Linked DNA regions of Homo sapiens: region 2 is reported to be linked to region 1. The links are microRNA targets in miRTarBase. Many come from high-throughput screens and were not tested one by one. Region 1 holds a microRNA gene; the other region holds the end of a gene's coding sequence.

Region 1 (3,407 bases):
ACAAACCAGCTCTGGCCAACAAACCTTAACATATGATCTATATCCACCAGAGCTATATTTATTCCCAAATCTCCTTCTAAAATACAAACCTGTACTTTCTACTCTTAACTTCTAAATTTACAAAGGCCTCATATGCATCTCAGAGTCACAGATGCTAAAACTTAACCGGTTTTCTGAGGATTATTTGGGGAAGGGGTATGCATGCAAATGTATACACATAATTCATGTGATTTAGGAATATTGACTCTATGACTTCCAGATGCAGATTTAGAACCTTTTTAAAAAATATTTTGTTTTTGTTGTCTTGCAAATCAGCCAGATCTGCAACTTACCAGAGTAAAGCGAAGCCAAGCGGGACCCTTAGGAAATGCACTAAGATGTCATCCACTTTCAGTGTCAGCCTGTGAAAATACAGGCGATAGAAGAGAATGAAGAGAACCTGAAGGAATTTCTGGAACCAAAGCTAATATTAAGCAGGCCTCTTGCTGGCAGACCAGTGGAAACTGTAGCCTGGTCAACGATCTGTCTAGATTGAGGAGGTCTAAAGTGTAGCCACAGGTTCAACTACTTTTCTGTTTGTTTCCCAACCTCGATTAAACTCACTAAATTTAGGGACAAAAAAACAAAACAAAACACGATGTTCCCACGCAGTCTCGAACCAGAGACCTTTCATATGTGAAGCGAACATAATAACCACTACACCACAGAAACTGCATATACACCAAAAAAGGCAAAATATCATCATGAAAATCTTAGGTCAGCCATTTCTATTATCGTTTCCAAAGTAAGAAATTCAACTGCATTTCGAAATTCGACTGAAAAAAGCCCAATAAGCACCAGCCATCAAGAAGACTATGGCTCCCAATAGGCCCAGGCTTAGCGTTCCGCGCCCACCCCCAACACGAAAACCATGGGGACCCACACCCGGGCTTCGGGGACACATACCCGGGCTTCGGGCTCCCGCATCCTCCCCTGGGTATGCAGTTCCAGAACTAAGCGCCGTGTGCGGGATCCTCCCGGCTGACACTCTTCGGCTCCCAGAAGCTGCAGGAGCCGGCGGGCTTTGAGCGTCCGAGCCCTGGGCGCCCCGTGCCTCTCAGGAGGGTGGACGCCGCCCTTCCAGGGATGCGGACCCCGCCTCGGGGCCTTTTCCCCGGCGCCGGCCGTCGGGGCTCTTGGCTCTTCTCGTCCTCCCAGGAACCGTAGGACTCTCCTTGCCCTCCCTCCCGTAGGCCGAGGGGCGCGAGCTGCGCCTGTTTCCTCACGGACCCTTTGGCCTCAGCGCCTCGACGTCTTGCAATTGTTAGCTCACGGCTCTTCCTCCTATAACAAGGCCCTTCCATGTCATGTCCCCTACTCCCTCTTAGCACCAGAGAGATGCCGCCCCTGCCCCACAGGTCACATTCCATGAGTGGTGAAGTTTCTAGAGTTGTAACCATGGCATCTCCAGCCCTGTGTGTTCCTCTCCATGCTCCCCATTGAGCAGTCTTGATCCTGTATTAGCCCCAGGAAATGAAATAGAAACAGGACCCTACGTTAAAAAGTTGCAGTGGAGATGTGGTGGCCACCAGGGGCTGGAACTGTGGGGTGACTGAGAGTATCCAAAGCCCTGTGGCCAACCTACTGGTGCTGAGTGTGCTGGTGAGCCTCTCTGTCAGCTGGCTTCCCCGGGCCAGTTGCTCCCGGAAGCTCTGTCCCAGGTAGTAGTCAATGTCATTGCTCCTTAAGAGATCCTCAAAAGATTTTACTGTATCTTTTGCATGCTGGGTGAGAAGATAACAAACACCTCTCCCTTCTCGTATTTTTTGCCGTAGGTAAGACAGTTCCCGGGGCTGATCCTGAATCAGGGAATCATATTTCCTAATGCAGGACAGAAGAGGAAAGGGTGGATGATAAGTTATGGGGCTTCTGTAGAGATTTCTATGAGAACATCTCTAAGGAACTCCCCCAAACTGAATTCTGGCACGTAAGCCATAGGAGGTATTTAAGAGTAAATTCTACCCTGATAAATTATTGCACTAAAAATTTAGTATGGGCCGGGCGTGGTGACTGACGCCTGTAATCCCAGCACTTTGGGAGGCTGAGGCAGGCAGATCACAAGGTCAGAAGTTCGAGACCAGCCTGGCCAATATGGTGAAACCCCCTCCTCTACTAAAAACACACAAAAAAACTAGCTGGGCATGGTGGCACATGCCTGTAATCCCAGCTACTTGGGAGGCTGAGGGAGGAGAATTGCTTGAACCTGGGAGGGAGAGGTTGCAGTGAGCCGAGATGGCACCACTGCACTCCAGCCTGGGTGACAGAGTGAGACTCTGTATCAAAACAAAACAAAACAAAAAATTTACCATGCCACTGTTCTTCAACTGTTCTATATATGTTAATTATATGTCCCTAGATAAATCGTAAGGTCTGTGAGAATGAAGATAGTTCTGCGTTTCACATCCCTTACAGCACCAGCATCACAGAGATTCACAGCAGATACTCAATGAATAATTAGACTCATCTCATCCTAAGTCTAGATAGGACCTTTCATGTCTTCTGTTTTAACCACCACCTGATGTCTGAATTTCTTCTGTGTTGTGATACTGTGGCTGACTGTATTTTGCAATCATGGCCATCACATAAACTCTCATGCCATCAACTGATGAGACCCAAAACAAGAGACCCTAAGTGAGAGCCACCCAGCTGAGCCCAGTCAAACCACAGAACCATGAAGCATAATAAAGTACTGTTTGAAGTCACTAAGTTTTAGAGTGGTTCTTACTTAGCAGTAGATAACCAGGACGCATACCAAGATGAATGTCTGTGTTTTCAACACAAAGTGTCAATAACACTGATAACTATGGCAAATAGCATTGAGAGCTTAATGTATGCTGGGCACCATTCTAAGCACTTGTACTAATTTTTTTTTTTTTTTGAGACAGAGTCTTGCTCTGTCACCCAGGCTGGGGTGCAGTGGTACCATCTCGGCTCACTGCATCCTCCACTTCCCAGGTTCAAGCGATTCTCCTGCCTCAGCCTCCTGAGTAGCTGGGATTACAGGGGTGCACCACCATGCCCACCTAATTTTTATATTTTTAGTAGAGACAGGGTTTCACCATGTTGGGTAGCCTGGTCTCGAACTCCTGACCTCGGGTGTTCTGCCCACCTCAGCCTCCCAAAATGTTGGGATTACAGGCATGAGCCACCACACCTGGCCAGCACTTGTATTAATTCATTTAAACCTAATATCCACCCTTTGAGATGGGTTCTGTTATCATCCTCATTTAATAGGTAATGACAAAGGCTCAGAAAGGTTAAGAAGGTTGCATGGGTAGTAAGCATCAGAGCTAGGCAGTCTGATTCCAGTATTACCACTATACTATGCTATACTATACTATACTATACTATACTATACTATACTATAC
Region 2 (3,407 bases), not on the chromosome of region 1:
GTAGCCACATGTGGGCATGTGGATGTGGAACCCTCCCCAACACCGCACGAAGCTGTTGGATGGCATTGCTCCCAGCAATTTCCCATTTTCTCTCTCTCCCTCACACAGGTCTATTTTGCTGTCTACACCTTCAAGGCACGAAACCCAAATGAGCTGAGCGTGTCAGCCAATCAGAAACTCAAGATCCTCGAGTTTAAAGATGTTACAGGAAATACAGAGTGGTGGTTAGCTGAGGTTAACGGGAAGAAGGGCTACGTTCCCTCCAATTATATCCGCAAAACCGAGTACACCTGAGCCCACGTTGCCTGCCACCCAGCCTTGCTGCCTTTGCTTTCAGTCCGCCGAGGGTTCTGGCGGCCCACCGAGAGGGCGCCTGCTCCTGAGACACAGGCCCTGTCTGCGTTGCTTAACCATGGCATGGTGGAGCACACCACAGATCTTGTTCTCCTCGATTGGGTTGTAAACCTTGATGCTCACTAGAATCTCTAGAATTTGAAATGGACCCTGGGGCTTTGCAAATGACTTAGTGACTATGAGAAGAGAGACAAGTCTTAGAGCTGGCTTTTGGAAAGGAGAAACTTGCAGTCAGAAGCCCAGTGTCCTATGTATGCAGGAAGCTGTGCTCTAGCAATAGACAGTGTTGGTAATGGTTGTGCTGTACGGCGTTTGGGGTGGCCCCATGTTCCATGCTCAGCTGACCGGATGCCAACTCAGATGAAAAGAATTCATGGCTCTGGGCACCCCGTGAGGCAGTGCTTGCACATGGCTGGGAGTTTGTCGGGATTGAACCAAACCTAGTGCTTCAAAGCTCCTGGGACACCTCCAGTGTCCAGCACACATTCTCATACATACTGCCCCTAATTTCTAAAGTCCCTAAAGCACTACATTCTGTAACCTTGTTTCTTTTACTCCATTCCCAGATTAGTTATGCAAAATTCAACTGCGTTCTACTTTTAGAAGTGTTTAGGGTCTTTATTTTCTGTTGACCCTTCATCTGAAAGATTCTCTTCCCTTGTTAGGTACAATCACTGCCCCCCCGCTTTTTTTTTTGAGATGGGGTCTTGCTATGTTGCCCAGGCTGGTCTTAAACGCCTGGGCTCAAGCAACCCTCCCGCCTCCCTGCTGAGATTACAGGTGTAAGCCACCATACCGCAACCTCAATGACACCTTTCTGATGGTCTTTACACAGTCTGTGATGTCTGGTGGCCCCCCTGCCCTGGACTCAATAATTGATAGATTTTCCTAGAGTAACAGTATGAGAGCTCCAGCCATTCCATTAAAAGTATTAGTTCTGCTTTGAGCTGAAACCAGTTGAGCCTAATGGAAGACTGGATGTCTTTCTTCTTCATCCAAGCACCCTAATGACTGTTTAGTTACATCCATAGATGCAGACAACATAACACCTGTGACTTACTTGAATTGGGATAAGCCATTCCAGAAGTAGCTTATCCTAGACTTGGAAATAAGATTTTTTTCACCACTAACTTCCATGCTTCAGAGATGACATTCAAAGCCAGATTCCCAAGTGCCTGATCATACCTCCCAGTCTCAGGAAGATATTTGCTTACCCCTTAGACCAAGAATCTTAAGATCTTCCCCAGCTATGAAGCCTATCTTGGAATGGGAAACCATGAAATTTGTCTTTTAAAAGAAAGGGAAGAAATAGCCTTACAGCCCCTGTTCCTCCAAGTGCACATTTAGCCTTAAAATCCTGGGAGTCGGGAGACACCGTGGAGTCCTAACATCCACAGTGTCTGCTGGTCGTGGTCAGAAGGCAGTAATGCAAGAGTCCTTTTGTGAAGAGTGTTTCTATGTAGAGATGTTTATATTTAAGTAGTTCTTTTATAAATAAAAGCATTTCTAATGGCCTTGGATGTTTTCTTGATTTCCATGTTTAAGCTGAACGGGTTTTTTTGTTTGTTTGTTTAAGCTGAACGTTTTTCCTGGGCTTCTGGGGAGGCCTTCTTGACAATGAGTGATGTCCAGATCTGGGAGAATGGGAGAGGCTAACTGAAGAAATGCAGGCCCAAAGTCATTCTGTCAAAGATTCCAACAATCTCTATATACTCAGGCCGAGTGTGGTGGCTCACACCTGTAATCCCACCAGCACTTTGGGAGGCCAAGGTGGGCGGATCACTTGAGGCCAAGAGTTTGAGACCAGCCTGGCCAACATGGTGAAACCCCATCCCTACTGAAAATACAAAAATTAGCCGGGCATGGTGCTGCATGCCAATAGTCCTGGCTAATCAAGTGGCTGAGAATTGCTTGAACCTGGGTGGCAGAGGTTGCAGTGAGCCAAGATCACACCACTGTACCCTAGCCCGGGCGATAGCAAGACCCTGTCTCAAAAAAAAAAAAAAAAAAAATCTCTGTATACTCAAAATATGTCCATGCTGCAGGTGACTGCCTCTATTTTCATCTTGTCCTGTGAAATTCTAACGAAACAGAAGAGCTGGGATCTCTAGGGGATAAGTATTTCCCTGATATTGCAGATGTGGACACTGATACACAAGGTTATCTAACAAGGTCACGGAGCAGCAGCTCAGGCAGTTGGGGGCAGGGAAGGAAGTGGCAGGGCTAGTGGCAGAGGTGGGATTGAGGACAGTATGGTGGGTGACAGTAAAGCGATCACCCAGTGTTGTTAAGGAATAGAAATCACTGAATTGGGTAGGCTGCAGGAAAGCAGCTGATAAGTCACCTATGCTACTCTCATGTGATAGACTAGGAAAATGGGGTCCAGAGACATTCGTACTCACCCAAGTCATATATCAAGTTTTTGAGGGGTTGTGAATTGAAACTCGGGCCTGCAGGCTCAGGCTGAGTCTGTACACCTTGTTCTGGAGCCAGACTGTCTGGCTTCTGACACTTGGCAGCTTTGTGACCTTGGCAACGTACCCACCTCTGTCTCAGTTCCCTGGTTGAGGTAGAGATAGTAATAGCATCCACCTTGTAGAGTTGATAGGAAGATTCCGTGAGTTAATACATGCACCATGCTGCAACAGGACAGCTGCGAGATACTGGAGGAGGACTTTCAGTGCTTGTCCCCCCATGGAAACATCTTAAACTATCTGTGCATGAAAATACCCTAAGCGCTAAGAAAACCATGTGAGAGATGACAGCACCTGGGTGTTGCATGCAAATATTAAGAAAAGATGCATTGGAGAGGGCAGGGAGGACATGTTCACAGGACCTGTGCCAACCCCTCCCTCAGCCGCAGGCAGCGCAGCACACATCGGAACACCCTCTGCATGGGGGGAAGAGAGGGAAGCGAGTCCCAGATTCAACCTTGGACCTCAGCACTACCCCAGTAAAACCCAGTGCCCAGCAGGTCCTCACAGCCCCAGACTCCAGGCTGGTAGCTGCACACTTGCCCCCAGGCCTGCCTGTAGCATAGAAGCTTCACGAGA

Evidence for each region. Region 1 holds the annotated microRNA hsa-miR-3675-5p (UAUGGGGCUUCUGUAGAGAUUUC, at 1,899-1,921, shown strand). A microRNA usually pairs through its seed, bases 2 to 8, with sites in the 3' UTR of a target mRNA and lowers its output. Matches are read on the target gene's strand: a 7mer-m8 pairs with bases 2 to 8, a 7mer-A1 pairs with bases 2 to 7 and ends in A, and an 8mer does both.
Region 2: the mRNA of DNMBP is a reported target of hsa-miR-3675-5p. Seed matches in the 3' UTR shown: 7mer-m8 at 675-681.

What each region holds. Positions count from the first base shown.
Region 1 is chr1:16,857,502-16,860,908 of GRCh38, reverse strand. It overlaps MIR3675 (microRNA 3675), which reads left to right and starts at 1,888; the gene lies at 1,888-1,960. It also overlaps the pseudogene PDE4DIPP9 and the pseudogene TRV-CAC11-2.
Region 2 is chr10:99,874,038-99,877,444 of GRCh38, reverse strand. DNMBP (dynamin binding protein) reads left to right here. Exons shown (of 17, transcript NM_015221.4): 17 at 109-1,868. The coding sequence ends at 294. Among named protein-coding and RNA genes, the nearest start is that of DNMBP-AS1, 51 kb to the left of the region's middle.